Linked DNA regions of Homo sapiens. Each later gene encodes a partner of the first gene's protein in a complex. Each region holds a gene or a part of one and is shown on either strand. Other genes may lie near its edges.

Region 1 (10,312 bases):
AAATGAAATCATACAGTATGCACTCTTTTGGAGGAGGAGACCAGGCTTCTTTTACTCAGCATAATTATTTTGAGATGAACCCATGTTGCATTTATCAATGGTTTATTCCTTTATATTACTTACTAGTATTCTATTGTTTATACCAGTGTGTTTATCCATTCATCCTTGATAAATATTTGGGTGGCTTCCCAATGTCTTTTTTTTTTTTTTTTAAGACGGAGTCTTGCTCTGTCTCCAGGTTGGAGTGCAGTGGCGCGGTCTCTGCTTACTGCAACCTCCGTCTCCCGGGTTCAAGCGATTCCCCTGCCTCAGCCTCCCGAGCAGCTGGGATTACAGGCACCCGCCACCACGCCCAGCCAGTTTTTTGTATTTTTAGTAGAGATGGGGTTTCACCATGTTGGCCAGGATGGTTTCGATCTCTTTTTTTTTTAATTTTATTATTATTATACTTTAAGTTTTAGGGTACATGTGCACAATGTGCAGGTTTGTTACATATGTATACATGTGCCATGTTGGTGTGCTGCACCCATTAACTCGTTATTTAGCATTAGGTATATCTCCTAATGCTATCCCTCCCCGGTCCCCCCACCCTACAACAGTCCCCGGTGTGTGATGTTCCCCTTCCTGTGTCCGTGTGTTCTCATTGTTCAATTCCCACCTATGAGTGAGAACATGCGGTGTTTGGTTTTTTGTCCTTGTGAGAGTTTGCTGAGAATGATGGTTTCCAGTTTCATCCATGTCCCTACAAAGGACATGAACTCACCATTTTTTATGGCTGCATAGTATTCCATGGTGTATATGTGCCACATTTACGATTAACAAAATGTGGTTTCGATCTCTTGACCTTGTGCTCTGCCCACCTTGGCCTCCCAAAATGCTGGGATTCCCCACTGTCTTTTTCATTTGCATGCCTGTAATGACTAATGAGGTTGAACATTTTTTCATGTGCCTCTTTGCCTATTTTATACTGGGTTTTTGTTTTCTTGTTGTCGAATTTTGAGAGTCCTTTATGTATTCTGAATTTAAGTTCTTTAACAGATATGTGACTTACAAATATTTTCTCACTATTTTTTTTTTTTTTTTTTGAGACAGAGTCTTGCCCTGTTGCCCAGGCTGGAGTGCAGTGGTGCAATCTCGGCTCACTGCAAGCTCTGCCTCCTGGGTTCAAGTGATTCTTCTGTGTCTGCCTCCCAAGTAGCTGGGACTACAGGCGCCTGCCACCATGCCTGGCTAATTTTTGTACTTTTAGTAGAAATGGGGTTTCAGCGTGTTAGCCAGGATGGTCTCGAACTCCTAACCTTGTGATCCGCCCACCTCAGCCTCCTTAAGTCCTGGGATTTACAGGCATGAGCCACCACGCCTGGGCTATTTTCTCACAATTTATGACTTGTCCCAGAAGTTGTTAATTTTGATGAAATCCAGTTTACCTTTTGTTTTTCTTTTATGGATCATGTTTTTGGTGTTATGTCTAAGAACTCTGCCTAACTCAAGGATACTAAGATTTTCTCTTCTCTTTTCTTCCAGAAATTTTATAGTTTTCAGTTTTATACCCAGGTCTATGATTGATATGCTTGGACCTGTGTCCCCGCCAAAATTTCTTGAGTTGTAGGGGCGTGGTGGGAGATGATTGGTTCGTGGAGCAGTTTCTCATGAATGGTTTAGCGCCATTCCCCTTGGTACTGTCCTCACGATAGTAAGTTCTCATGAGATCTGGCTGTTTAAATGTGTGCAGCACCTCCCCCTTGCTCTCTCTTGCTCCTATTCCTGCCATGTGAGACGCCTTTGCCTTCTGCCATGATTGTAAGTTTCCTGAGGCCTCCCTAGAAGCCAAGCTGAAGCCACCGTGCTTCCTGTGCAGCCTGCAGAACTGTGAGCAACTCAACCTCTTTTCTTCATTAATTACCCAGTCTAAGGTATTCTTTACAGCAGTGTGAGAATGGAATAATACATTGATTGTTTTGAGTAAATTTTTCTATGTGGGGCAAGGTATAGTCTTCTTTTAATACATTGCTGGATTTGTATGGAACCATTCTTTGCAGGAGTTCTCACTGTAATGAAATTTGTCCCTGTTTTGTTGGTTGTTTTCATAGCATCTCTGGAAGTTGATGGTAGAAGAATCCGATTTACTGGGTCAGCTGAAGGTAATGGCTTAGCTGTTGTAATTCTTACGGTGATGCTGGTAGGCAGTGACTTGCATTCTCTGATGTTTCCTGAGAGCACTGGTTGCCTATACCCAGACTTCCAGAGTCAACTCATTTGTTCTTATCCAAGTGAGCAAACTATACCTAATGCCACAAATCTACGATAATACAAAGATTTGGGAGTGTACTTTTTTCTGGCATATATATATAATTATGTTGCTATTGAATAAATAATGCCAAATACACACCAGTCATCCTGCTATGCGGAACTAAGTATGCCTCTTTGAAATGCCAAATGCCTGTATCTTTTGTAGCTTGGGCTCAAATTGATGAAATTAGAAATTACTGTATACATGTAATTCCTCAGGACAGTGAGGAGCTCCTGCCTTGCTTTACTGAATTGTAAATTGAAATTCTTTCCTCAGATCATTAAAGACTTTTACCTTCTGGGACGTGGAGAACTGTTTCAGGCCTTCATTGACACAGCTCAACACATGTTGAAAACACCACCCACTGCAGTAACTGAGCATGGTAATTGTCAGTGGCCCTGAGAATGATCAACTGATTGACATTGCAGGGTATTTCTTGGCTGCTGCTGACCCTTTTAAGGCCTGCTCCACATAAGAGCAGCCTGATGAGTTACAGAGCAGTGGCTTCCAGAGATGGAAGGCTCTTGCAGGTAGGCTTCATGCTGGGGTCATTGGGAACAGTGTCTTGGCCTGTGACCCTTCCTGGAAGAGTTGGTTCAGGCCTTCAAACCAGGTATTTTTTCTCATTGGATTATAGCCATATATACTTTATGGGCCATATTGGGACTTAGTGCTGCTTGTAGTTTTGCAGTAGAATTCTTTAGGTGTGAATGATGGAAACTCACCCGAACTAGCCTAGTTAGGAAAGGGAAATGGATTTGCTATTGTATCTAAAACCCCAGTGGGAAAACTTCGATTCATTCTCTCTCTCTCTCATTCACTCATTCACCACATCTTGTTTGTGTCTCTTGTGAACACTTTGATGACCTTCTGGAAACATGATCACAGCATCTCCCAGGAATATGCCTCACAGTGTCCTCTACGGAAGGAACTGAACCCAGTCCCTCTTGTTGCAAGTTAGAGAATTCTAGGGAATTATCTAGGTTTTGATTGGCCCAGCCCACATCACATCCCTATCCCTGTATCAGTCAAAGAGGTCAGACACTAGGCTATGCCTAGTTCAGTGAAGAGTCTACCCCTTGACCCACTGATGTCCATTCCCATTCATACTGCATGAGTAGAGTTGGGTAAGGATCCAAAAAAAGAAACTGTGAGAAAGAAAATACATACACACAGGCTGATCATTTTTCTAACTCAGTAAAACCATAGATGTCCACTGTACTTATATAGTACAAATATAAGTACTTGTGGTTGCAAATATCAGAAAATCCAATTCAAACTCACTTAAGCAAAGCAAAAGGAAAGAAATAATGTATTGATTCTCATAACTGAAAAGCTCAGACGTATGATGGTTTTCGGCTAAGTTTGATCCAGTGACAGGTGTGGCACCTTTAGGACTTGGTCTCTTTCCATCTTCTACCTCTTTCTTCTCAGACAGGCCTGCTCTGTATGGTAGCAAGATAGTCTCTAGCCAAGTTTACATCCTACTAAGCCCCTGTTTATCTTGAAAAAAGAGCTGGACTCTTTTAGAGTCTGAATAGAGCCTCTGGATTGGCCTGGCTTGGTCATGTTAATATCCCTAAACAATATAGCATAACAAAGTAGAGTATTACATTCCATTTGATCATGCCTACATCACCCAGCTACCCCTAGAATCAGGTGTTGTCTAGCACTAACCCACTGGAAATATGTGAACTGTACTGAATAGGGATGATTCTCCAAGGAAAATCAAGAGGCAGTTTGTCAGCAAGAAGAGAAGGATGGATGGGTGTTAGACAAATGAAACAGATGTCCACTGTGTCCTGCTGTTAGCATTGAGCATGTTGGGGGAGAAGTGGAAAGCTGGAGGAGTCTGGGTTTGTTATGTAGCCAAGCGTCCCTGTCAGCCTGCGTGTTCTTTCTTGCAGATGTGAATGTGGCCTTTCAACAGTCAGCACACAAGGTATTGCTAGATGATGACAACCTTCTCCCTCTGTTGCACTTGACAATCGAGTATCACGGAAAGGAGCACAAAGGTTTGCCATTCCTCCCTGCCACCTTAGAGTTCCTGCTGGTCATCATCCATTTTCCCATCTCTGCTTCCATCCCCCGCCACAGAAACCATATGATTTTGGATCTTAGAAATCAGCTAGTACAGTACTATAATTCTATAGAGAAGAAAAGGAAAGTCCAGAAGTCCAGAGAGGCTAAGTGAGATGCCCAGGCCATGTTTTGGGGGAGTTGGTTTTTTTGGTGTTTTTTTTTGTCATGCTGCTGGAATGGTGCCTGTTTATTTCCAGCCCCCAGATTTTAAGGCTGAGGAAAGAATCTCTAGAAGACCTCCCAAGAGAACCTCACATAGAAGTTTCCTTGCCCCCTTCTTAGTGTCCCCTGTAAGCTTCTGACATCGCAGACTCCATTGAGCTCTGTTGCTTTTCTTTTGGAGACAGAGTCTCACTCTGTTGACCAGGCTGGAGTGCAGTGGCACAATCTTGGCTCACTACAACCTCTGCCTTCCAGGTTCAAACAATTCTCATGCCTCAGCCCCCCTGAGTAGCTGGGACTACAAGTGCGTGCCACCATGCCCAGCTAATTTATGTATTTTTAGTAGAGATGGGGTTTCACTGTATTGCCCAGACTGGTCTTGAACTCCTGTGAGCTCTAGTTTCATTAATGTTATTCACTTGTTGAGTCTCTGGTTCTAGATTAACCAAGTTGTTATCTTTTCTTTTTTTCTTTTCTTTTATCACAGCAGATGCTACTCAGGCAAGAGAAGGGCCTTCTCGGGAAACTTCTCCCCGGGAAGCCCCTGCATCTGGCTGGGCAGCCCTAGGTCTTTCCTACAAAGTACAGTGGCCACTACATATTCTCTTCACCCCAGCTGTCCTGGAAAAGTGAGTATTTCTGAGTTTCTCACAGGTAAATATGACCCACCTTACTTGTAAGGGAAGAAACTAGCAGGAACAGAATTAGTGGGAAAGCAAGGTGTGGTGGCACACACCTGTAATCCCAGCTAGTCCAGAGCCTGAGCAGGAGGATCCCTTAAGCCCAGGATTTCAAATCCATCCTGGGCAACATAGTAAGACCCCCATCTCATAAAAAAAAAAAAAAAAATTAATGGGAGCAAGAGAGCCACCCAACTAGTTTTTAACAATCTGTAAATCAAAAATTGTAAACCCTTATGCCTTCAGGGGCTAGACTGATCACATTAATAAGTGAAGCCACAGATATGAGACACGGAGTTGGAATCAGTGGGAGGGCATATCTACTTCAAACCATCATTTTTTTAAATTGCCAAATAATAAGCAGTTTGTTGGCTGCCAGTTTGTGAGCTCTGGAAAATAAGGTCTTAGGCACCATGTCGAGATAATGGCCCTTGATGATTCCATCACACCTGACAAGGTCTCTCCCTCACTTTTGTAATATTTTTTGTTGATTTACTTGGGAAAGTCCTCCAGCCTACATGTCTGCTATGGATGTTAGCCACTGGGGAGAAGACAAAATCCTGTGTCCTCATTATTCACCTTCAGTAACCAGCAACATTATACTACTTTTATCTGTCCCTCCCCCACTTTTTTGCTAGAGCTGTATAAAGCAAATCACAGTCATTTCATTCTGCCAATAAACAATTGAAAAAGGCATATTTCAACAGAACTACAATGCCATTATCACATCCAGTAAAATTAACAGTAGTCCCTTATAATCCCTTATAATATCCAGTCTACATTGAAATTTCTCCAGTTATCTAAAAATTATCTTTATGTTTGGGTTTGTTCAAATCAGTTTCCAAACAAGGTCTATCATTTCATTATGTTTGTTCCTTTAGAAATAGACAATTTTAAAAACCAAACAGAATGGGACTGTCTTCTGCAAGCCTACCTACAAACAGGTAAATAAATCCTATTCTACCAGGAATCAGCTGTTCTTCCCGTGTGTCTTTTAAGTATGGAGTCTCAGCATTAAGCAGTTAGCACCTGAACTTGCAGGGAGGCAGGAGCGGGAGTCTGTCTCAGAGGGAAGCTATTTTACTTTCTTTCGGCTCTCAGCGACAGAGAATCAGATTCATCATAATCCTTGATTCATAACACACTATTTTTTTTGAGACAGGGTCTTGCTCTGTTGCCCAGGCAGCACACTGCAGCCTTGAACCCTGGGTTCAAGCAATCTTCCTGCCTCAACCTCCCAAGCAGCTGGGACTATAGGTGGGCACCACCACACCTGGCTAATTTTTTTAATTTTTAGTAGAGATGGCATCTCACTATGTTGCTCAGGCTGGTCTTGAACCCCTGAGCTTAAGTAATTCTCCTGCCTTGGCCTCCCAAAGTGCCGGGATTATAGGCATGAGCCAACACACCTGGCCTGCTTTAAGAATTATAGAAAAGGCTATATGTAATCTTTTGTGATTTACCTTTTTCATTCAAAAATCATGTTTTTGAATATGAGAAGCAACACGAGTCAACCATTCAAAAAGATTATAAGGGTATAATCTAATATCCAGTCCACACTGAAATTTCCCAAGTTATCTAAAAAATGCAGAGATGGGGTCTCATCTTGTTGTATAGCTGGAGTTCATTCGACTGCTATATAATATTCCATTGTATAAATAAATTATAATTTATTTGTCTACATCTCTAGTCACTCTTTCCTTACTGCCTGTTTGTGAGAGGAGTGGGTGGCACAAAGTCCTAGAGTCTGTCGTGTGGGGGAAGTGCAGGGGATGAAATTTTTGTCTTGAATATCCTGTTATTTCTGTCCTAGGTACAATGTTGTTTTTAAGTACTTACTGAGTGTGCGCCGGGTGCAAGCTGAGCTGCAGCACTGCTGGGCCCTACAAATGCAGCGCAAGCACCTCAAGTCGAACCAGACTGATGCAATCAAGTGGCGCCTAAGAAATCACATGGCATTTTTGGTGGATAATCTTCAGTACTATCTCCAGGTCTGTGCTAAGAGATGAGTAGAAGGAAGGGGTACGGAAAAACGTCTAGGAGGTTGGCAGGGAGTATTGAATAGGGACTACAAGTTTCTATTTGATAAAATGGTGGGGTTTGGGAAAATTCAGGAGTTATATCACCAAGCATGTTTCTTAAAATAAAAAAAGCATTTTATTTTATTTTATTTTATTATTTTTTAGAGACAGGGTCTTTCTCTGTTTCCCAGGCTGGAATGCAGTGGTACAGTCATAGCTCACTGAAGCCTCAAGCTCCTGGACTCAAGTGATCCCCCTGCCTCAGCCTCTCAAGTAGCTATGACTACAGATACATGCCACCACACCCAGCTGGTTTGTTTTTATTTTTTGTAGAGATGGATTCTCACTTTGTTGCCCAGGCTGGTCTCAAACTCCTGGCTTCAGCGAGGTGTCATGGGTCACGTCTGTAATCTCAGCACTTTGGGAGGCTGAGATGGGCGGATCACTTGAGGTCAGGAGTTTGAGACCAGCCTGGCCAGCATGGTGAAACACCATCTCTACTAAAAATACAAAAAAATTAGCCAAGCGTGGTGGCGCCTGTTTGTAGTCCCAGCTACCTGGGAGGCTGAGGCAGGAGAATCGCTTGAACCTGGGAGGTGGAGGTTGCAGTGAGCCAAGATCATGCCATTGCACTCCAGCCTGGGCAACAGAGTGAGACTCCGTCTCCAAAAAAAAAAAACTCCAGGCTTCAAATGATCCTCCTGCCTTTGCCTCCCAAAGTGCTGGGATTATAGGCATGAACCACCGCCACACCAGCCTCTTAAAGGCATTTTAAAGAATCCTCATCAACAATCTATTATTTATTGTTGACTTGCCCCTTATTTTTATTGTTTGCTATAACTTCTGGAATCCTGTAGGTGACCAAGTCAGTCAGTAGACGGAATGTGGCCATGAGTGGATTAGGATGGGGCAGGGGAGGCTGGGCGCAGTGGCTCACACCTGTAATCCCAGCACTTTGGGAGGCTGAGCCAAACAGATCACCTGAGGTCAGGAGTTCGAGACCAACCTGGCCAACATAGTGAAACCCCTTCTCTACTAAAAATACAAAAATTAGCCATGCGTGGTAGCGGGCACCTGTAATCTTAGCTACTCAGGAGGCTGAGGCAGGAGAATTGCTTGAACCCTGGTATGTGGAAGTTGCAGTGAGCCAGGATCGCACCACTGCACTCCAGCCTGGGTGGCAGAGCAAGACTCCGTCTCAAAAAAAAAAAAAGGAAAAAGAGAAAAGGATGGGGCAGGGGAGAGTGGTCAGCCAGGACGTTGGAGGGAGGGGGTTCAGAATTATGCAAATAACTTCCTACAAGGCTGGGCAATATAAGGGTGTCTTTGGTCAGCCTTAATGTGACTTGGTTAGAAGGAAGATGAGTGGAGGCAAAGCATTTTCATTTCAATCTGTCAGGCATCTTAATGTCTTCGAGTGCTTAGAATATGCAAAGTGCTAAAATTTTTTGTAATGTCTATCAGGTAGATGTGTTGGAGTCTCAGTTCTCCCAGCTGCTTCATCAGATCAATTCTACCCGAGACTTTGAAAGCATCCGATTGGCTCATGACCACTTCCTGAGCAATTTGCTGGCTCAATCCTTTATCCTATTGAAACCTGTAAGTAAGGCTCATTGGTTTCCTCAGACTGCTTCTACCACTGACCATTCCCTTAGGCAGTTTGAGTTGACAGGATACGAAACCATCATTAAGCAATTATTCAAGTCCATTTTAAAACATTTTTTAAGAATGTGTAAAGCGGCGGGGCATGGTGGCTCATGCCTGTAATCCCAGCACTTTGGGAGGCCGAGGTGGGCGGATCACAAGGTCAGGAGTTCAAGACCAGCCTGGCCAACATGGTGAAAACCCGTCTCTACTAAAAATACAGAAGAAAAAAAAAATAATAGGTGTGGTGGCTCGCGCCTGTAATCCCAGCTACTTGGGAGGCCTGAGGCAGGAGAATTGCTTGGACCCAGGAGGCAGAGGTTGCAGTGAGCCAAGATCATTCCACTGCACTCCAGCCTGGGCAACAGAGCAAGATTCTGTCTTGGGGGAGCAGATAAAAAAAAAAAGAATGTGTAAAGCAAAACTAAAAAGGCATGTTAAACGGGACCTAAGATGTCTTTGAATTTCTGAAATACAGGGTGTGGTGAGCAGCTACAGATGAAAGAATTATGTGCTTAAACCCTCAGGAGTTAAAGAAACTCAAAATTCTTGCTGACAATACAGAAAAACCAATGAAAAGCATATAGAGTTCACCTTCTTAGAAATCTTTTGGACCAGGATGGATCAGTCATTTGAAAGTTCTTTTCATAGACAACTAGAGTAGTGTTTCTCTCTCGATCTATGTATGTGTTTCTGTAAGTACATATATGTCTCCTTCGTGGCAGTTATTTTCAACTTTGGCTGCACATTGGAATCATCGGGACTCTTTAAAAAAATCTAGGTGACAGAGCACTTAAATTAGAATCCCTGTAATAGTGGGACCCAGGTACTAATTTTTTTTAAAGCTCACAAGCTAGTTCCAATTCCAGGATAAAGAACAGGAAGACTGAAATGATCTCTGGTAGTTTCTAATGGAACGGTTATGCCTCCTCTGACATGAGCTGGTTGTTATTCCTCAGTGTGCTACAGCACAGCTGTTACAGACTTTTTAAAAATGTTCTGGTGTTTAGGGCTATTTCTGCTGTACCAGGAAGAGTAAGATATATATTAATAGATGCCACTCCAGAGGGCTGGCTGAAAACAACCAAGAACTACTGTGATGGGTAGATGCTGTCCTTATGTGGCATAGATGTATCCATAGGGAAAAGCAGAATAACAGAGCAGGTCATCATCATTAAATATTTATTGAGTGCTTACTGTATGCAAGGCACTGGGGATACAAAGAGGTATAATTCATGGCTCTGCCCTTAAGGAGCTCACAATCTAGTTGGAAAAACAAGACATATATATATATATACATACAAAAATCAGTAACAACACAGAGGCCTGAACAATTGCCAAGTGGACAACAGTACAGATAATAAAGAAGCAAGAAACGAGGGTTCACTAAAGGCTATAGTGGGGAAGGGAGTGCTTCACTGAGAGAGTGGGAC
Region 2 (10,763 bases), on another chromosome or scaffold:
TAGGGGCTGAGGAAAGGTGGGGTGAATGAGACTCACTGGCCTGAGGAGACAGACCAAAGTCCTCTACCCTTTTTTTTTTTTTTTTAAACACAAGGTCTTGTTCCGTTGCCCAAGCTGGAGTGCAGTGGTGTGATCATGGCTCACTGCAGCCTCGACTTCCTGAGCTCAAGCAATCCCCCCACCTCAGCCTCCCATGTAGCTAGTACTACAGGCACATGCCACCATGCCCGGCTAATTTTTTTTTATGTTATTTTTTGAGGCAGAGTCTCGCTCTGTCACCCAGGCTGGAGTGCAATGGTGTGATCTTGACTCACCGCAACCTTTGCCTCCCGGGTTCAAGTGATTCTCCTGCCTCAGCCTCCAAGTAGCTGGGACTACAGGCACATGCTACCAGGACTGGCTAATTTTTTTTTTTTTTTGAGACAGAGTCTCGCTCTGTCACCCAGGCTGGAGTGCAATGCTGCAATCTCAGCTCCTTGCAACCTCCACCTCCCAGGTTCAAGCAACTCTCCTGCCTCAGCCTCCCGAGTAGCTGGGACTACAGGCATGCGCCACCACGCCTGGCTAATTTTGTTTTTTTAGTAGAGATGGGGTTTCTTCATGTTGGTCAGGCTGGTCTCGAACTCCCAACCATAGGTGATCCGCCCGTCTCAGCCTCCCAAAGTGCTGGGATTACAGGTGTGAACCACCGCACCCAGCTCTAATTTTTGTATTTTCTGTGGAGATAGGGTTTCACATGTTGCCCAGGCTAGTATTGAACTCCTGAGCTCAAGCAATCCATCTGCCTAGGCCTCCCAAAGTGCTAGAACTACAGGCATGAGCCACCACACCCAGCCCCTCAACTCTTTCTTTGCTCACCACACAATCTGCGTTCTGCGTCAGCCTCTTGAGTGTCAGGAGTGAATTGTAGGGCTGAACCACTACGTCGCTCATCTCGTCCTGGTAGGGAAACACTGAATAAGTCTGCACTAGCTTCTTGGGGTACCTGAGAGAAAAGAGGATGGTGGCATAGTGAACCGGAAGGACCCCTCCATCACTGCCCATATGTGCCATTTTGTACAAAAGGGGTGAGGGCAGAACTGAGTCTTCAGAGCCAAAAAGGATAAGCCTGAAAGCTTCAAACTCTGTAGATCCCCTCCCCTCCACAGGTAAACCCCCACCCCCCAAAATAGCTTCCAACATGGTCCTTGGGTGGGTCTGTCCCTATGACTCAAAAGGGGTAGTGGCAGACTTTCTAGCTCAAGAGAAAAAAGCAATGACATTACTCAGGGAACCAGGGTTAATGCCCTCTCCCCAAACACAGGCTTGCCTGTCATTCAGTCGCTCCAGGAGGTAGGAGCCCAGGCCAGAACCCGTACCCCCAGCGATGGAGTGACACAGCACGAAGCCCTGTGTGTATACAGGAATAAACAGACTCAGTTTCTCCTGCCACACTCTCACAACACAATTCTGATACCAGATGGGTGGGGTCTTACCACACACATCAGGTAAGCAGTCAATTCTACAGTAGATGCCAGCTGGGTATCCACTAATTCACTTCAATTCTGGACTACCTACAGACTGTCCCTGACTTAGGATGGTTTAATTTAAGATGTTTTGGCTTTATGATGGGTTTATCAGGACATAATCCCATCTTAAATCAAGAAGCATCTGAATTACAATGGTTCAATTTACAATTTTTCAACTTCATGATGGGCTTATTGGGTTATAACCTGATGCATTTCTACTTACGGTATTTTCAATTTTTTTTTTTTTTGAGACGGAGTCTTGCTCTGTCACCCAAGCTGTAGTGCAATGGCCCGATCTTGGCTCACTGCAACCTCTACCTCCTAGGTTCGAGCCATTCTCCTGCCTCAGCCTCTCAAGTAGCTGGGACTACGGGCATGTACCACCACGCCTGGCTAATTTTTTTATTTTTCGTAGATACGGGGTTTCACCATGTTGGCCAGGCTGGTCTTGAACTCCTGACCTCAAGTGATCTGCCCGCCTCGGCCTGCCAAAGTGTTGGGATTACAAGCATGAGCTACCGCACCTGTCCTCAAATTTGTTTTGGTTTTAGAGACAGGATCTCACTCAGTCCCCCAGACTGCAGTGCAGTGGTGTGATCATAGCTCACTGCAGCCTTGAATTCCTGGGCTCAAGGCATCTTCCTATCTCAGCCTCCAAGTAGCTTGGACTATAGGCATGTACCACCATGCCTGGATAATGTTTGTATATTTTGCAGAGATGGGGTTTCACCATGTTGCCCAGGCTGGTTTTGAACTCCTGGGCTCGGATGATCCACCTGCTTCGGCCTCCCAAAGTGCTGGGATTACAGGCATGAGCCACTGTGCCTAGTCAATATTTTCAATTTGTGATGTGTTTACATCCTGATAAACCCATTGTAAGTTGAGGAGTATCTGTACCTGAAGATAGCATCAGATCCCACAGAGTGAAGGCTCAGTCCCACAAGACTCTCCCACTTCCAATGCCAACACAAGCTTCAGGTTGTTTTATCTGTGCCTCTGACCAACCAGCTATAAATCGAGGTTCTCAGGACTGCTCCTTGGGTTCAATTAATTTGTTAGAGTAGCTCACAGAACTCAAGGAGACACTTACTTACGTTCATCCATTTGTTATAAAGGATATTTTAAAGGATACAAATAAACAGCCAGATGAAGAGATACCGAGGGGAAGCTCTAGAAGGGTCCGGCGCATAGGAGTTGCTGCCCTGTGGCGTTGGGTTTGCACCCTCCTGGCCTGTGGATGTGTTCTTGTTCACCTTCCTGGAAGCCCCCAAACTCAGTCCTTTTGGATTTTTATGGAGGCTTCATTACACAGGCATGACCGATTAAATCATTGGCAATTGGTGCTCTACTCAATCTTCATCCCCTCTCCCTTCCCCAGAGGTGAGGGGTGGGCCTGTAAATTCCAACCCTCAGAGCACCAGGTTTGTTCCCCTGGCAACCAGCCCCCCATCCAGTGGCTATCTGGGACTTTCCAAAAATCGCCTCTTTAACATAAGCTCAGGTTTGGTTGAAAGGCACTTGTTCCTCCTTAGTACAGTGGTTAGTAAAATTAACTAATTAAAATAAAATGAAAGATTAAACTAAAAGAAACGGGCTTGTTATAAATAACAAAAGACTGTCTTTCACCTTTATCACTCTGGAGCTGTTCTGGAGCTGTTTCAGAAACCAAGGACAAAAGGTCAAATATTTTAACAAAACATACTATTATTGCTCTAGTCCCTTAGGAAATTACATGGGTTATAAGAGCTGTAAGCCAGGAACATATCGCACCCAGCATGGGGAGAGATGGAGAGGCAGTCTCCAAGGATCTGGGGGAGAGACTTCGGCTTGGTTCATTCTCCATTCCCAAAACGCCAATGTCTCAAAGCTTCCTCTTATGCATCCAGGCTGAGGCTCCTTGGGAAGGTTTGGAGCTGGAGAAGCAGCTGAATGACTCATGCCTAAGGGGCCGGTGCCATTCAGATTTATGACTTCCTTGAGAACAAAGATTATATCTTATTCACCTCAATATCCCACATCTGATGCTCCATAAACGGGTTTTGAATTGAATTGCTCCCCTCATATTACCTATCCAGGCCACCTCCTGACCTGTCCCCAGCACTCTTCGGCCTCCCTGCCCATTCCTTCCCCCACTCCATAACTTCACCTCCAAACTGTCACTTCCATCTGCTTCTCGGTCTATGATGTCAAAGATGTCTTCATGAATTTTCTCACCCTGTATAGAGATATGGAAAGGGAGGGTCAGGCCAAAGGTTCCAGAGAGCATCTTTTCTCAGCACAGCACCAAGAATTCTGTCTACCCTGGAATATTGTTGCCACCCTGAAGCAGAGCCTAGGCTGTAGCCCTCAACCCAGAAGTGCTACTATTGCAAATGATTTGCACAAAATTTGCATAAACCTCTCCCTGGCTGTCCCTCTTGTTCGGGACATCCTTTTGTCTCTTATTTTCTGTCAGTCAGGTCAAATTCCTAGTAGCTTGAGCCTGCCTTGCCTCTGGATGGGAATATCAAAGGTCTCTGGAATGGTCGCTAGGACACCTGGGAGAATCCGCTGGCCCAGTTGTTGCCAGCTCCTCCTCCATGTTCCGACAGGTAGATGTTCTCTGGGTTGTAGAGCTTGGCATAGGGGGAGTTGAGGATGGAGTGGATCACCCGGGGTTCCAAGTCCAGCAGCACGGCCCGGGGGATGTAGTGCTCATCGTCTGCCTGTCAAGGGGAGTCCAGGAGGGGGCCCAATCAGCTAGGGCGGCCCAAGTCCGAAGTCCTCCCAACTCTGGCTCCCTCCGGCCCTCCCTCCTCAAGCCAGCCGCCTGGCCCTACTGCCCAGCGGGGTTCCCAGTACCAGGCCACTCCCTTCCCTTCCGCCCCCTTGGGCCACTGCCGCCCCCGGCCAAGTCGCTGGGGGCACCTGGTAGAAAAAGACGTCCTTGCGGTCAGTGCCCTCGGTGGCGAATTCCTCCACGATGCCCTCGGGGCTGATACCATGCTCGGCGCACAGCTGTTTCCAGAACTCGAACCCAACTGGGGGAGGGGGGAGATGCCCGGGTCTGCTGGAGCCTTAAGGCCTGAGGAGCCCAGTTTTAGTCTCAGAGGCTGACACGATCAGAGGGTGGACCCAAGATGCCTGGGTTTGGTAGCTGCCCCAGCCCCGGGCTGGAGGCGCAGCTCTCGGTCTGGGTTATCCAGAGCAGCAGGGCAGGGGGTTCATGGAAGGGAAAGGGGGACTGGTGGAAGCCAGGCACTTGGGTGGGACCCGAAGGGGCAGAACCAGAGACCGGCGGGGCCGGCGCTCGCTTGCTCACTCTGGTTGCCGCACTGGCCCAGCTGCAGGGTGATGATCTCCCGGGGCATCGCTCTTCAGACGTGGGCGCGCCAGCCCCGGCCTGGCGAGAGTCACGGCTGAGACGAATGCCCGGCAGCCAGGAGCGCAGGACGTGGGGAGCGCGCGCTCTCTTCGCCTCTTGACGCGGATGCTCGGTCTGCGCGTGTGCAGCGCAGGCCTCTCCTCGGCCGGTGGGCCGGGGAGCCCAACCTGGGCATCATTTTCTCCCTCAGCAGTCGCAGCTGGAATTCCGCACAGGCGCAGAGTCAGGCCACGCCCGCTCCTGCCCACCGCTCCGCGCCTGCGCAGTGAGACTCGTTGGGGGTGGCAGGGTCGGAACCTGGATGTGTTGGGGAGGAGAGGAACGGGGGAGGGGAGGAAAGGGGAGAAGCGGCCAGGTGGATGTGCTTGTCCACGTGTAAGGAGTCATCTACCTATATTGGTAGGTGAGGACACTGTCAGCTTTGCTAGATCAAAGGGCTAGAAGCCAACTTTTCTTCGTTTAAATTTCTGTTTTTTAATGGTGTTACAATACATACACATGTATGTTACCTTTTTATTTTTTAGAAGGGTCTCGCTCTGTCGCCCAGGCTGGAGTGCAGTGGCGCGATCATAGCTCACTGTAGCCTTGAACTTCTGGCTTAAGTGATCCTCCCACTTCAGTCTCCCGAGTAGCTGGGACTACAGGCGTGTGCTACCACGCCCAGCTAATTTTTAAATTTTTAAAATGTATTTTTATAGAGATGGGGATCTCACCGTGTTGCCCAAGATGGTCTTAAACTACTGGCCTCAATCAATCCTCCTGCCTTGGCCTCCCAAAATGCTGGGATTACAGGCATGAGCCACCACTCCTGGCCTAAATTTACCATTGTAACCATTTGTAAGTACTGCATACAGTTCTGTGGCACCAAGTACACTCACATTGTTCTGTAACCACCACCACCATTCTTTTCTAGAACTTTCTTATCTTCCCAAACTGAAACTCTATCGCGATTAAACAGTAACTTCCCCTTGACTACTCTAGGCACCTGATATGAGTGGAATTATACAGTATTTGTCTTTTTGGGTCTGGCTTCTTTCACTTAACATAATATCTTCAAGATCCTTCCATTTCGTAGCATGTGTCAGAATTTCCTTCCTTTTTACAACTGAATAATATTCCATTGTATAGATGTACCACATTTTGCATAACCATTCATCCCTCCATGGACATTTGGGTTGCTTCCACCTTTTGGCTATTGTGAATGTTGCTGCTTTGAATGTGAGTGTACAAATATCTGTTCGAGTCCCTGCTTTCAATTATTTTGGATATACACCCAGAGGTAGAATTGCTGGATCATATGGTAATTGTGTTTAATGTTCTGAGGAATCGCCATACGATTTTCCATGGTAGCTGCACCATTTTAAATTCCCACCAGCAATGCACAAGGGTTCAGTTAAATAAATTTTATAGGAGGCCATTGATTTGCACTGAGCTCCTGTGCTTGGCTCAACAGACCAAACCAAAATGGAGTCACTCACGCTAAAGTTCTATGTCACTAAGCAACACTAAGTTGTTTATCAAACCTTCAGAGGAATCAGGAGAGGGAAGGAAGAGCCAAAACCCCAAACAAGCCAGTGTGAGCCGGCATGATACGGAAGTCCTTTTACAAGAAAAGTAACTTTGAAAGGACCCATCTGCTTTTTTTCCTTCTGTTTCTATTTTTCTCTACCCTTTTTTGTCCATAAAAACTAACCTGTGCTTGACTCATCTGAACACTCATTCTATTTATTTTATGGAATGAAACGTAGCCTGATCTAGAATCACAAACACTGTAAATGCCACTTAAGATTTTTTTTTTTTTTTGAGACTAAGTCTCACTCTGTTGCCCAGGTTGGAGTGCAGTGGCATGATCTCGGCTCACTACAACCTCTGCCTCTCTCAGGTTCAAGCGATTCTCCTGGCTCAGCCTCCCTAGTAGCTGAGATTACAGGTGTGCACCACCACACCCGGCTAATTTTTTTGTATTTTCAGTAGAGACAGGGGTTTTGTCATGTTGCCCGGACTGGTCTCGAACCCCTGAGCTCAGGTAATCCACCTGCCTCAGCCTCCCAAAGTGCTGGGTTACAGGCATGAGCCACCATGCTCAGCCAAGTAGCCAAGTTACAATCTTTTTTTTTTTTTTTTTTTAGATGGAGTTTCGCTCTCGTTGCCCAGGCTGGAGTGCAATGGCTCGATCTCAACTCACCGCAAGCTCCACCTCCCGGGTTCAAGCGATTCTCCTGCCTCAGCCTCCCAAGTAGCTAGGATTACAGGCATGCACCATCACGCCCAGCTAATTTTGTATTTTTAGTAGAGACGGGGTTTCTCCATGTTGGTCGACCTCATGTGATCCACCTGCCTTGGCCTCCCAAAGTGCTGTGGGATTACAGGCGTGAGCCACCACGCCCAGCCTTTTTTTTTTTTTTTTTTTTTTGAGACGTAGTCGCACTCTGTAGCCCAGGCTGGAGTGCAATGGCTTGATCTCAGCTCAGTGCAACCTCTGCCTCCCAGGTTCAAGCAATTCTCCTGCTTCAGCTTCCCAAGTACCTGGGATTATAGGCACGCTCCACCATACCCTGCTAATTTTTGTATTTTTAGTAGAGACGGGGTTTCATCATGTTGGCCAGGCTGGTCTCAAACTCCTGACCTTGTGATCCCTTCCAAATGTTGGGATTACAGGCGTAAGCCACCGCACCCAGCCTCTGAGACTTTTTATGCAGCCTTGGAATCCTGGGCTCAAGCGATCCTTCCACCTCAGCCTCCTGAGTAACTGGGACCACAGGCACATGCCACCATGCCAGCTAATTTTTTTTTTGAGACAGAGTCTCTTTCTGTTGCCCAGGCTGGAGTGCACTGGCATGATTTTGGCTCACTGCAACCTCCACTTCCCGGGTTCAAGTGATTCTCTTGCCTTGGCCTCTTGAGTAGCTGGGATTACAGGCATGAGCCACCACGCCCGGCTAACTTTTGTATTTTTAGTAGAGACAGGGTTTCACCATGTTGGCCCGGCTGGTCTTGAACTCCTGACCTCAGGTGATCCACGCGCCTCGGCCTCCCAAAGTGCTGGGATTACAGGTGTGAGCCACCATGCCCGACCTTTACAGTGACTTTTCTACATTCCACCAGGCTGGCTGTTCCCTCAGGAATAATCTCCTGTGTGTCTGAATCATATATACCCAACTGTGACTAGAATGGTGAACTGTGAGTCCTGCATCAACCCAAACATGCTCTTCCACTCTGCATACTGCCCCTAAATTAGTCACTCTCAGAATCCATTTTAGTAAATGTTCCTCAGGAAGCTGATGATACTGATCTATGAAATGGAACAATTCCTCCACACTCTACTGTCTGGTTTCGATAATTACTTGGTTCCTTCACATTGACTACCTTCTTGGTAACCACAGGTCTCAGAGGTACTTTCTGTTGTCCCTGCATAATTTCCTCCTTTGTGGGTGACTCCGAGGCTAGTGGCCTGAGCTCAGCCAGACCCACATCTGTGCTTGGTCCAGCCTCAATTCCTAACCCAGCACCCTCTTTTACTTTCATTTTAGCCATTATAGATAACAATAATCAGGGGGCTGAATATTTCACATTTTTCTTATTAGTTTGCATTTCCTTATGCATTCAATGAACCAATTCCTGGGAGTTGGATCCATCTCTAAATTCCACTAGTAAGTTTTACCTTTAGTAACTGATCTCAACAGAGTTGTGGCTTCACACCATGGTGACCACGTGGTCACCCAGGAATTGACGACCTCTTCCTCCACCCTTTTATCCTTTTTCTTCCCAAACCACATGTTTATGTGAGTCAGGGCCATTCCTGCAAATCCCACTTCACTGACACCAATTGTTTAGAGAAAACTGTAACCATTTCCTCTACTCTCACACCACAGCAATCATCCACACAGATTTCTGTGACCATACACATGGGGCTTTTGTTCCCCACCCAGCAGTGGACACCAGCTGGGTGTCCTTTAATTCAGTTCTAACACCATCTACCCAGAGACAGTGTCAGACCTCATAGGTTGAGGGCTTAGTCCCCAAGACTGCCTCCCTGCCCCGCACCAGTCCCAAGTCTGGGCCTCCAGAACTTCTGACCAGCAGGCTTTAAGTTGGGGTTCTCATGACCCCCTCTTTGGGTCCAATTGATTTGTGGGAGCAGCTCACAGAACTCGGGGAAACACTGACAATTACTGGTTTATTAGAAACCATATTGCAGGCCTAGTGTGGTGGCTCATGCCTATAATCCAAGCACTTTGGGAGGCCAAGGCAAGTGCATCGCTTGAGGTCAGGACTTCGAGACCAGCCTGGCCAACATGGTGAAACCGTCTCTACTAAAAAAAAAAAAATTAGCCAGGTGTGGTTGGTGGGTGTCTGTAATCCCAGCTACAAGGGAGGCTAAGGCAATGAGAATCGCTTGAACCCTAGAGGTGGAGGTTGCAGTGGGCCGAGATGGCGCCACTGCACTCCAGCCTGGGTGAAAGAGCAAGATTCCATTTGAAAAAAAAAAAAAAAAAGCCAGCATATCGCAAAGGATACAGATGAAGAGACACGGAGGGTAAGGTATGAGGGCAGGGGTGTGGAGCTTCCATGCCCTCTCTGGGTGCTCCACCCTCCAGGAACCTCCAGGTGTTCAGGCATCTGGAAGCTCACTGAACCCTGTCCTCTTGGGTTTTCATGGAAGCTTTATGGGAGGGTCTTAAGGCCCACAGTCAGAAAGGCCCAGGAAGGTTAGAGTGAAAGGAGTGCAGGAGAAGGTCAGATACTGCCCCTGAGGGCTAACACACTCAATATTATAACAAAAGACTAACAAGGACTATGAGAGTCATGAGCCAGGAGCTGTGGACGAAAACCAATATGTATCATAACACCATACCATCTTTAAAAAAAAAAATAGAGATGGGAGTCTCGCTGTGTTGCCCAGGCTCATCTCGGACTCCTGGGCTTCCTGGGCACAGTGGAACAGCCTGTAATCCCAGCACTTTGGGAGGCCGAGGCGGGAGAATCGTTTGAGGCCAGGAGTTTGAGACCAGCCTGGGCAGTATAGTGAGACCTCATCTCTGCAAAAAAAATTGTTTTAATTAGCCAAGTGTGGTGGTGGTGCCTTTAGCCCCACCCAGCTCCTTGGGAGGCGGAGGTTGCAGTGAGCAGAGATCCCGCTGCCACTGCACTCCAGCCTGGGCAAGAGCAAGATGCCTTGTCTCAAGAAAACAAAAACAAAAACAAAAACTCCCGGGCTCAAGCGGTCCTCCCTCCTCCGCCGCCCAAAGTGCTGGGGTTACAGGCGTGAGTCCCTGCGCCCGGTCCATACCATCTTTTCCTTTATGTTTTGCACGTTTTATACTTTGTTAGAGAAAACATCCCCTATCCCAGTGTCATACAGCTATCTTTCCGTTTTCTTCCCAAAGCTCTGTAATAGCGTTGCTTGTTCCCTGTAGGTCTCTAGTTCATCTGGAATTTATTTGGAGGCCTGCCGTCAGATAGGATCTACTTTATCTTTTCCGTATGGATGGCCAATTGTCTCCAAACCAATTACTGAAGAGGCGGTGCAGCCTCCCCCACCCCCTGGGGCGTTCCAAGTCTTCGCTGGGAAGACCTTTCCGTCGGTCTGTCAGTCTGTCCCTGCCTGGCGGGCTTTCTCTGGGAACCGCTGCAGACGCGCTGGCGAAAGCACCACCGCCAAGAGTCATGCTCAGACGAGAGATTTTGTTTTCTTCTCTCTCTCTCTCTTTTTTTTTAAAGAACTCGGCCGCTTTCCAGTCCCCAGAATCCTCTGGGCTTCTTGAGAAGTCTCTGGCTCGCCCCACGCCCGCCCTCTACCCGGCCTCGGCTCAGTTTCCCTCCCCGCACCCCGCAGAGCCTCTCAGCTTCCTCCAGCTCTGGTCGGGAGGATCTCCAGCGTCCCCCAAGAG
Region 3 (10,833 bases), on another chromosome or scaffold:
CATCGAGTGTGGGCGGCAAGCCACCCAGGTGCCGAGGCAAGAGACCGAGGGCACGAGCTGTTCCAGTGTAACAAAATATATAAAACAACAAGAGTTATGCTAGATCTAGATCATAGATATGATTATATATGAATATCATTAATCATCAGTTTGTAGCAATTACTCTTTATTCCAATATTATAATAATCCTTGCTCTACAATCATAACCTAGGAAAAACCAGGCCATACAGAGATAGGAGCTGAGGGGACATAGTGAGAAGTGACCAGAAGACAAGAATGTGAGCCTTCTGTCATGCCCGGACAGGGCCACCAGAGGGCTCCTTGGTCTAGCGGTGATGCCAGCGTCTGGGAAGATGCCCCTTGCCAAGCGGACCTTGGTCTAGCGGTAGTGTCAGTGTCAAGGAAAAACACCCGCTACTTAGCAGACCGGGAAAGGGAGTCTCCCTTTCCCCGGAGAGTTTAGAGAAGACTCTACGCCTCCAACTCTTGTGGAGGGCCTGACATCAGTCAGGCCCGCCCGCAGTTATCCGGAGGCCTGACTGTCTCCCTGTGATGCTGTGCTTCAGCGGTCACACTCCTGGTCTGCTCTCATGTTCCATCCCGTACACCTGGCTCCGCCCTCTAGATAGCAGTAGCAAAATTAGTGAAAGTATTAAAGTCTTTGATCTTTCTGAAAAGAACATAGAAGAAATAATGACATAAGCTGTCCTCTCTCTCTCCGCCTCGGCTACGTAACAGGGAAGGGCCCCATGTCTGGTGGACACATGACACACATGACCTTATCAATCATTGGAGATGACTCACACTCTTTACCCTGCCCCTTTTGCTTTGTATCCAATAAATAACAGCGCAGCCAGGCATTCGGGGCCACTACCGGTCTCTGCGTCTTGGTGGTAGTGGTTCCCCGGGCCCGCTGTCTTTTCTTTTATCTCTTTGTCTTGCGTCTTTATTTTTACAATCTCTCATCTCCGCACACGAGGAGAAAAACCCACCGACCCTGTGGGGCTGGTCCCTACAATAGAGTACAGAAGACTCAGCACATACTCCCACAATATGCTAATTCACTAACGATTATTAGCACGGGACTCGACACCGAGATTCTAATCCTGTGTGATGGAAGACAGTTTATCTGTAGATGAACATCAAATACTGGTCACAGGCAGGGTATCTCCGAAAATGGAAGGAGAGCGATAAGAAGGCATGGTGCTGAGTTGCTCACACACATGCTTTTGACCCAGGAGGTGCTCACGGTAACTACAGTTCAAGCACAAGGCCAGCAGGGCACGCGCCATGGAGCCCCATGCAGTCTGGACACTGACGTGGCTACTTCTAGGCTGTGGGACCCTGAACAAGGACACGTCCTCTCCAAGCTTCTTCTGAAAAGGGGAAGCCCTAGGTCCTGCGTAGAGCTGTGGTAGAGAGAAGTGAAATCACCCTGAGAAAGCACAGAAGGGCCCATACGTGGTAAGTTCTTACACTGTTGTTACCAGGAAAGCAGAAACAAACATGCGGCACCATTGCTCCCTGGAGGTGTTAACTCTGTTATCTGGGAAATGGTTAGGTTTACAAAAGGAAAATTGGGTCCCAATCACTGACAACATCTTAAACTACCAGATGCTTTTTTAACAGTCATGGGAGCCCTGGACGAGGCCCTGCAAACTACTTGTGAAGCAGAAAAGACAGCCCAAACTTTCCGGCCAGCGGCCCCTTCAAATCCAAGGGTGGCCTGTTTCACCCACATTCTACTCGGCTCCCCGAGGACTGCAGGTTGTCCTATAACTGCTGGTCTGAGAAACACTTTGGTCATGCTAGGTGGCAAGAAAACCATTTGCCACCAAAACAAAGCACTCCCCCACCAGACACAAGTCAGGAGAGAAAGCTACCTATGAAGAAAAATCATCTGAGTATTTATTTAAAAACTACATGCTGGGCACGGTGGCTCACGCCTGTAATCTCAGCACTTTGGGAAGCCAAGGTGGGCGGATCATGAGGTCAGGAGATCGAGACCATCCTGGCTAACATGGTGAAACCCCATCTCTACTAAAAATACAAAAAAATTAGCCGGGGGTGGTGGCGGGCGCTTGTAGTCGCAGATACTCCAGAGGCTGGGGCAGGAGAATGGCATGAACCCGAGAGGCGGAGCTTGCAGTGAGCCAAGATCACACCACTGCATTCCAGCCTGGGCAACAGAGCGAGACTCTGTCTCAAAAAATAATAATAAAAAAAATAAAAACTACCTTCAGGAAACTTCGTATCTCTTCTAGAAATAGAAGCACAGATGCCCGCACGTCATGAGTGTTCATCCCATGAGGAGCCTGCTGCTCTCCCTGAATGTGGGGACCGGGCCTCCAAGAGGGCAGCCCGTACTCGCACAGAGTCCCTCCCCCCAGAAGACCTTTGGAAAAGTCCTAGGGCAACTCTGGGGTGTCACGGTCATGGAAGGGTGCTCTCGCTACTTAGAGGGCAAGGGCGGGGGATGCTAATCATCAACAGAGCTGTCCCGCCAGAAATGCACAGCGTCCCACTGAAAACACAGCTCTGAGGAACATCTAGCCGTGGCTGCTTCTTGGAGGAACGTCTAGCCATGGCCGCTGACTTGGCCTTCTTGATGCTCCTGAATTCTTACTATTAATCACACAAACTGACAGGCCCAGCAACTGTGACTGGGAGGGACTGACGTCCTCCTCACAGAGGCTGTGAGCTACCGCAGGGACGCGTGCTGAGGGAAGCAATGCACGCATGTCACACTCCACCACGGACAAGCGGGGCACACACTCCTAGTGAGCACACACTCCAAGTGATTAAAACACAGAGGGACGTGAAAAAGAGTCTCTGTTGAGAGCTCAAAGCTAACTGTACAAATTGGTTTGAAAAATGTTATTTTACAACTTGTGGAAAATGTCAAGAGCCCAAAGGCTTTTACAGAGACAGAAAGTACAGTCATGCATCACTCAACATTCTGAGAAATGCCTGGCCAACATGGTGAAAACCAGTCTCTACCAAAAATACAAAAATTGGCCAAGCCTGGTGGCGCACACTTGTAATCCCAGCTACTTGGGAAGCTGAGGCACGAGAATCGCTTGAACCCAGCAGGCAGAGGTTGCAGTGAGCCCAGATCGCGCCACTGCACTCCAGCCTGAGCGACAGAGAGAGACACTATCTCCAAAAGAAAAAAAGAGAAACGTATGGTTACATGATTTCCTTCTGTGCGATCATCAGAGTCACTCGCAGACCTGGATGGTGTACGGCCTACAATGCACCTAAACCACCTAGAGGAGCCTCTTGCTCGTGGGCTACAAACCTGCCCAGCAGGTGGCGGTGCTGAACACTAGACAACTGTAACACAGAGATATTTGTGTATCTAAACATGGAAAAAGTACAGGGGCAGGCATGGTGGCTCACGCCTGCAGTTACAGCTCTTTGGAACGCTGAGGCAGCAGGACCACTTGAGCCCAAGAATTTGAGGCCGCAGCGATCTATCAGCTATGATCGCACCATTGCACTCCAGCCTGGGTGACAGACGAGAAAGCTAAAGCCTCTATCCGCCACTGGGCCCATTCTCTGCAGTAGATCTGAAGCGTCCACTGCTTCCCGCGTGTGTTGTCATTCACCATTTTAATTAGGTGACTCTTTACTCTGACGTCTGTCTCTCCTACAAGGCTGCCGCGCCCTCCTGTGATGCCTTCCCCCACACGCCCTGAGCACCTAGCACAGGTCCTGTGTTTCACGGGAGCTGCGGGGACTGGAGAGGTCGACAGGACCCCGACAAACCAGGAAAGGGCCTTTGAACTAAAGTAACGGGAAGTCACCCAAGGGCTTTAAATTAAAAACGGTTACAATAAAACTGGAGTCACTTTGGCTCCAGTTCGCGACTGGTTTAGAGGGAACAAGATCCAGGGACTGCAGCGGGAGACGACAGGCGGGGCAAGGCGGACGGGAGAGGGCGTGCGAGAGGGGGACCTGCGACCCGGCTTCCCAGGGCTGGGAGGGGACACCCGGGACGACCCGGAGGCCCGCTCCGCCCCGCCCCGGCTGAGTGTCGGGCCGCGGGGCAAGACGCTGGCCTGGCCGGTGCAGGCCCGAAGGGCTTCGGCCCCAGAGTTCGGGGACCGCTGCACAGCCAGAGGGAGCGCGCGGGAAGAGCCGCGTCCCGCCAGCCCCGTCGCCTCGTGGGCCCCCCCGGGCCTGGCAGTCCCCCAACCCCCTCATCACGCCCGCGCCCGCGTTCGGCCAGGACTCACCGCAGTCCCGGAGCCACAGCCCCCGCGCAGCCCCCGACGGCGGCGGAAGTGAGCGTGACGTCACGTCCGGCTCGGCTCGCGGACGGTGGCCGACAGGCTGCGCCCGCCCGCGCCCGGGGTGATGCAGTTGCCCCCCGCGCTGTGCGCCCGCCTCGCTGCGGGGCCCGGGGCGGCGGAGCCGCTGCCTGTAGAGCGGGATCCCGCGGCTGGGGCCGCGCCCTTTCGCTTCGTTGCGCGCCCCGTGCGCTTCCCGCGGGAGCACCAGTTCTTCGAGGTGCGTGAGCAAAAGAGGGAAAAAGTAGTTGTAGGATCCAGTGGGGCCTACGGCGGCGAGGCGGGGCCGGAGCCTGGAGTGGGAGGGGCCTACGACTGCGGGGCGGGGCCGGAGCCTGGGACAGGCGGGACCTGAGGTGGTGGGGCGGGGCCGGAACGTGGAGTGGGCGGGGCCTGAGGCTGTGGGGCGGGACCGGAGCGCGGGATGACTGGGGCCACGGGTGTGGGCGAGGCCTGACGCGGTGGGCGTGCCGCGAGTCACCTGGCCCCGCCCACGGCGCACTTTTCCTGCAGGATGGGGACGTGCAGCGCCACCTCTACCTCCAGGACGTGATCATGCAGGTGGCCGACGTGCCTGAGAAGCCCAGGTAAGCGAATGGGCAGTGCCTAGCCAGTGCTACTCCTGCGCCGCCTCCCTGACCGGTGCCTGGTCCCTGGGGCTGTGCTGCCGCTCTTCCATGTGCGGCCGCCCCACCGAGGCGCTGTGCCTGTCCAGCTTTGGCGTGGCCGACTCTTCCACCACCTAGCCTGTTTGTGAAACTTAATTCATAAAAAGAGGGTTTGGGATTGCAAAAGATGCATAGGGGCTTTATTGGACGTCTCAAAGGGAAACTGTGCAGAAAGTCCAGCTTGGTTCCTCGCACCGGAGGAAGGGCTCCTGAAGCACGTCTCCTTGGCAGGGTGCCCGCGTTTGCCTGCCAGGTGGCCGGCTGCTGCCAGGTGTTCGATGCCCTGGACGACTACGAGCACCACTACCACACGCTGCACGGAAATGTTTGCTCCTTTTGCAAGCGGGCCTTCCCTTCCGGACACCTGCTGGACGCCCACATCCTGGAGTGGCACGATTCGCTCTTCCAGATCCTGTCTGAGAGGCAGGACATGGTGGGTGACAACTGCACAGCCGCCGAGGCCACCCCCCATTGGTGATGGGCTCAGAGTGCTGCCCCCAGCTCTCGGGTGCTCGGGCAAGGCCGGGGACACCTTTCCGCCCTTGGCAGCTCTGCTACGGGGGCATGGCGGTGGGGGAGGGCCAGGGGTCAGAGGGAGGTGACACGGTCTCCATTTCAGTATCAGTGCTTGGTAGAAGGCTGCACAGAGAAGTTCAAGACCAGCAGAGACCGGAAGGATCACATGGTGAGGATGCACCTGTACCCCGCGGACTTCCGGTTTGATAAGCCAAAGAAAAGCAGAAGGTAGGGAGCCGCCAGGCTCAGCACGTGTCTGCTTTTGATTTTAGGAAAAGGTTTCCAACTAGCCGGAATGCATAGACGGTCAGACTTATTAAGCACTTGTGTGTCACCTAATGGGGTGTTCACCTGCAGGTACCTGAAGCCCTGGCAACACAGCTACAGGTGGTTGTGCCAGCGGCCACCCTGCCGAAGGGAGGCTGGAGGGGAGCCCCTGGCTGCCCAGCTCTGTGCCGGTGGAGGCAGCAGAGGGGGTGTGGGAATGAGCGGGCGCAGCGCCTCCGCACTCACACCCCTCTGGGCCATGCCTGTACCTCCTGCAGCAGTCGGCCGTGGTCATCCGCACTCACACCCCTCGGGGCCGTGTCTGTACCTCCTGCAGCCGTCGGCCGTGCTCACACATCATGCAGCCCTGGCTTTCCTTTTGTCCTGGTTGGTTGTGCGCATATGAACTTGATGACAAAGCTGTTGATTAACATGTTCCTGCCTAGAGTGCACTCTGGGAAATACTTCCAGGAACAATCTTTTTTTTTTTTTGAGACAGGGTCTTGCTCTGACACCCAGGCTGGAGTGTAGTGGTGTGATGTAGGTTCACTGCAACCTCCACTTCTCAGGCTCAAGCGATTCTCCCACTTCAGCCTCCTAAAGTGCTAGGACTACCAACACGCATCGCCGCACTCGGCAAAATTTTCTATTTTTTGTAGAGACAGGGTCTTGCTATGTTGCCCAGTCTGGTCGTGAACTCCTGGGCTCAAGCCGTCCATCTGCCTCAGCCTCCCAAAGTGCTGAGATTGTAGGTATGAGCTACCATGTCCAGCCGGAACAATTTTTAAATTGTGTTATATTTCTTCTTTTTTTAACTGATGAGGTGAACTTTCATAATCATCTACAATTTTATTGATCAGAGTTTTTCAGACTCTACATTTTCTCAAGTAGTAATTTGCTCTTTAAAATAAAAGAACTGGGAGAACCCACTGCAATGTGGGAGGCTTTACAAAGACTTACGTGTAAAGTAATTGTCTCCTTTCCGAGGGATCATTTTAAGGAGAAAAACCGTGCAATGCTGGATTAAGACATTCGTATTATGGAAGAGACTAGTTTATAGTCTCTGGTTAACTTTAGCAAATTTCTCACACTCATAAAAAGACCCGTGGCACCGTTGGCACCATAAAAATACTATTTTCAAAAAAAAGTATGATTGTTACAGTTAAGTTTATAAGATGCAGACTCTATTATATAAACAATGGCCTTGCTGTAATCATTCTCCTTTTCCCAGTATCTTAAACCACACTATAAAATCAGACTATGCCAAAATAGTAAGAAAATATGCTACTTACAGGGAAATCCAGTTTCTTTCTTGCATGTTCATTTCTGGGGAACACAGGGGCTGTGGGAGCCGTGCAGGGCAGTTACTCACTGCTCTCTCCCCGCAGCCCAGCCTCAGCAGAAGCCCCAGGGGACAGTGGAGAGCGGTCAGAAGGGGAGGCCATGGAAATCTGCTCTGAGCCTGTGGCAGCCTCCCCTGCACCGGCAGGTGAGAGGCGGATCTACAGACATAGGTCAGTGTCTGAGCTCTTTCTGAAACCCGTTCTCAACATGTGTTCGGTGCTGAGGATTCTGGGCTGCACCTGGGCCGCAGCTCTTCTCATACTGAATTCAGAAAGGTAACGCTGGGTAAGAAAATCGGCTTCCGCCAGAGAAGAAAGTCCAGATATCTCAGGTCCTGTGAATAACTTAGTTTCTCTCGCATACTCTGTTTTTGAGCCATTGAAGCGCAGGAATGCCAAGCACCACTCACTTTTCCTCATTGTCTGAGTGGGATGGAAAGAGTCTCACTTGCAGTTGCTTCAGTCACAACCCAGGCGTCTGCCTTAATAGCATCACCTGTGCCGTCTGCGTTTCTAGCGTCACCTGTGCCGTCTGCGTTTCTAGCGTCACCTGTGCCGTCTGCCTTCCTAGCATGACCTGTGCCGTCTGCCTTTCTAGCATGACCTGTACTGTCTGCCTTTCTAGCGTCACCTGTGCCGTCTGCCTTTCTAGTTAAAGTTGATTTTAAATTAATTTGGGAAAAACGGTGAACAAGTGGGGAAAAACATCACCAAAGACTCCAAACAGGTGGAACGATGAACTTAATGTTCCCTGCACCCTCCTTACAGATGCCTGGACTTTGGCCTGTGAATGAGCCCCGGGGGGCTGGGACAGTAGGGGTTTTCATGGAATGGACATGGGGTAGCAGGAAGTCTCAGCCCCAGAGGGCTTGGCAGGAGCCGCCCTCTCTGCGGAGTTCTTCCCAGCGGGTGTGCGTTGGTGGCTGGCGGGGACCCCCCACAGGAACTAGGTCTCAGGCTGTGGAAAGGGAGCTGCCCCAGGGCCCAGGAGGGCCGGCTCTGCATTCCGCATGTTCCCAGAGTGAAAGAGAATGAGAAGGAGACACACAAGTGCTGTTATGACCTGGGTTGTTGGTTGGCAAATACAGCATCTAATAGAAACTTTCTTCCATCCCAGAATACCCTCTACCATCTGCTTTGGTCAGGGTGCCGCTCGAGGATTTAAAAGCAACAAGAAGAAAACCAAACAATGCTGATAGACTCAGAAAAGGAGTGGGGGGCAGTCACCACTGCTGGGCGTGGCATCCGCCTTGGGCCTTTCTCCGACCTTCTGGTGTGGCCGCCCTGGGGGCCAGGCCCTCGCCATCCTCCCCATCCTTGTTCCTCAGCAAATGGCATTAGCAGCTGTCATCAGAAGCTGTGAGGGACCCACAGATTTTGGAAACGACCTGGACACACTATTGGGAAGGAGATGTGGACGGCCTGTCTCCTCCTGCAGGGCCCACCCTAAGAATGTATTTTTAAACACATGAAATAAGTATTTTTCACTGATGGTCTTGAGTCTTCATTTCTGTGTTGAGTCAGGTGCGGAGTGGTTATTGTTACCCATGGGTATTCTGTTTTCCACCCTCAGTTTTCAGGAAGATTTATAAAGTCCTGGCACCCCTCAGAGGTGGGTGATGGGGTAGGATACAGCACTCCACCTCGTCCCGGACCTCCTGGCTTTGGGAGCCACACCCAGTTGTCCTTGCCACACCACTTAGGGAGTAGACCTGGTGGGGGTAGGATCTGATGCCCACAGGGAGGGGCACTGGCTCTGGGGGCATGGGGTGCTTGGGGGTGTGTGGGATGCTGGGGGAGTGGGGGGTGCTGCCCCAGAGGGTGCAGGATCCATCACTAGTGCCAGCGGGGACCACAGAGCCTGCATCAGGAAATGCAGGCCAGGAGATTGGGGCTGGCATTGGATTGCAGAGATACACTGGGGGCAGTGTGTCCTGGAGAAATCACTCTGTTTTGATAAAATTAGGGCGCTCAGAGACTCCCGACCACGTCTTCCTCCAGCGGCCCTGTTCCCACAGCATGTGATATAGGCGGCAAGCCACCCAGGTGCCAAGGCAAGAGAACGAGGGCACGAGCTGTTCCAGTATAACAAATATATAAAATAACAGGAGTTATACTAGATATATGTCATAGATATGATTATATATGTATCACTAATCATTAGTTTGTAGTAATTATTCTTTATTCCAATATTATAATAATCCTCACTCTACAATCATAACCTAGGAAAAACCAGGCCATACGGAAATAGGAGCTGAGGGGACATAGTGAGAAGTGACCAGAAGACAAGAGTGTGAGCCTTCTGTCATGCCCGGACAGGGCCACCAGAGGGCTCCTTGGTCTAGCGGTGACGCCAGCGTCTGGGAAGATGCCCGTCGCCAAGCGGACCGTAGTCTAGTGGTAACGTCAGTGCAAAGGAAAAGCACCTGCTACTTAGCAGACTGGGAGAGGGAGTCTCCCTTTCCCTGGGGGAGTTTAGAGAAGACTCTACTCCTCCACCTCTTGTGGAAGGCCTGATATCAGTCAGGCCCGCCCGCAGCCATCTGGAGGCCTAACCGTCTCCCTGTGATGCTGTGCTTCAGTGGTCACACTCCTAGTCCGCTTTCATGTTCCATTCTGTACACCTGGCTCTGCACTTTAGATAGCAGTAGCAAAATTAGTGAAAGTACTAAAAGTCTCTGATATGCAGAAGTAATGGCGTAAGCTGCCTCTCTCTCTCTGCCTCTCTGCCTTGGCTGCCAAATGACGAAGGGCCCCCTGTCCAGTGGACACGTGACACACGTGACCTTACCTATCATTGGAGATGACTCACACTCTTTACCCTGCCCCCTTGTCTTCTATCCAATAAAAGTGCAGCCTGGCATTCTGGGCCGCTACCGGTCTCCGCGTCTTGGTGGTAGTGGTCCCCCGGGCCCAGCTGTCTTTTATCTCTTTGTCTTGCGTCTTTATTTCTACGATCTCTTGTCTCTGCACACGGGGAGAAAAACACACAGACCCTGTGGGGCTGGTCCCTTCATGTGACTGGTGTGCTCCTGGCCCCCTGCCCCTGGCATTGCCTCACAGCCCACTCCTTTTGGGGCTCTGGGTCTGGCTGGAGGCAGTGGGTGGTCATCTGCAGCTGCTGCCCAGCTCCACAGGATGATGCTGAGAGCTCTCCAGCAACCTGGAGTCAAGGAATCTCAAGGGCCTCAGGTTCAGAGCTGACATGGCACAGTGCTTCGTGCTCTGAAAACTGAAGGCAGGTTCCCAAGCACTCAAGGGAAGACACTAAAGCCTGAAGCCCAGGCCTGGGTGCATCAGTGAAGAGAGGTTTCACACGCACATGTGTGGGGTGGGAGATGAGCACTGGCCGAGGGTGGCTGTGGTGGGGCCGCCCGGGGCCTGTCGGCTGCTTGAGAAAGCACAACACAAGAAAAATGCAAACACGCAGATTTACTGCTGGTTCTCCATCTCCCTGAGAAGATCCTGCCCCAGCCCGTTGAATCCTCTGGCTCTTGCGTGAGCTCCCTGCACAAGGCCAGCAGCACAGCCCTGGCGGCAGCGCTCCACGAGGATGTATTAGCCCTTTCCACAACAGCAGATTCTGCTAAAACTCTTTTGTTCACAGCAGGACTGTTCTATACCCTTCGGGGACTGTTGGTCCTGGCTTCCAATCCTAGCTTCATCTCTGCCTGGAAGCGATTTGTTTATTCTGTCTCAGTTTTTCTTCTGACAAGTGGGGAGTGTAAAACTTCGGTATGAAGA

Evidence for each region.
Region 2: TUBGCP4 (region 1) and TUBG2 share a complex: the UniProt entries of both Homo sapiens proteins name them as parts of the gamma-tubulin ring complex.
Region 3: TUBGCP4 (region 1) and TUBGCP2 share a complex: the UniProt entries of both Homo sapiens proteins name them as parts of the gamma-tubulin ring complex.

Annotation. Positions count from the first base shown.
Region 1 is NC_000015.10:43,393,017-43,403,328, forward strand, and holds part of TUBGCP4 (gamma-tubulin complex component 4), read left to right. Parts: intron 1-2,090; coding exon 2,091-2,141; intron 2,142-2,566; coding exon 2,567-2,672; intron 2,673-4,197; coding exon 4,198-4,305; intron 4,306-5,021; coding exon of another isoform or gene 5,022-5,024; coding exon 5,025-5,163; intron 5,164-6,095; coding exon of another isoform or gene 6,096-6,111; exon of another isoform or gene 6,112-6,158; intron 6,159-7,027; coding exon 7,028-7,205; intron 7,206-8,699; coding exon 8,700-8,834; intron 8,835-10,044; exon of another isoform or gene 10,045-10,312. UniProt on the Homo sapiens protein: Component of the gamma-tubulin ring complex (gTuRC) which mediates microtubule nucleation.
Region 2 is NC_000017.11:42,653,599-42,664,361, reverse strand, and holds the start of TUBG2 (tubulin gamma-2 chain), read right to left. Parts: upstream 5,079-10,763; 5' UTR 4,859-5,078; coding exon 4,810-4,858; intron 4,529-4,809; coding exon 4,416-4,528; intron 4,214-4,415; coding exon 4,046-4,213; intron 3,724-4,045; coding exon 3,655-3,723; intron 3,162-3,654; coding exon of another isoform or gene 3,135-3,161; intron 1,390-3,134; coding exon 1,310-1,389; intron 986-1,309; coding exon 859-985; intron 1-858. UniProt on the Homo sapiens protein: Tubulin is the major constituent of microtubules, protein filaments consisting of alpha- and beta-tubulin heterodimers. Gamma-tubulin is a key component of the gamma-tubulin ring complex (gTuRC) which mediates microtubule nucleation.
Region 3 is NC_000010.11:133,304,582-133,315,414, forward strand, and holds the start of TUBGCP2 (gamma-tubulin complex component 2), read right to left. Parts: upstream 4,292-10,833; 5' UTR 4,242-4,291; intron 1-4,241. Other genes in the region: ZNF511-PRAP1 readthrough, read left to right, coding at 4,363-4,515, 4,809-4,882, 5,195-5,396, 5,583-5,707, 7,135-7,260; ZNF511 (zinc finger protein 511), read left to right, coding at 4,363-4,515, 4,809-4,882, 5,195-5,396, 5,583-5,707, 7,135-7,260, 8,207-8,285. UniProt on the Homo sapiens protein: Component of the gamma-tubulin ring complex (gTuRC) which mediates microtubule nucleation.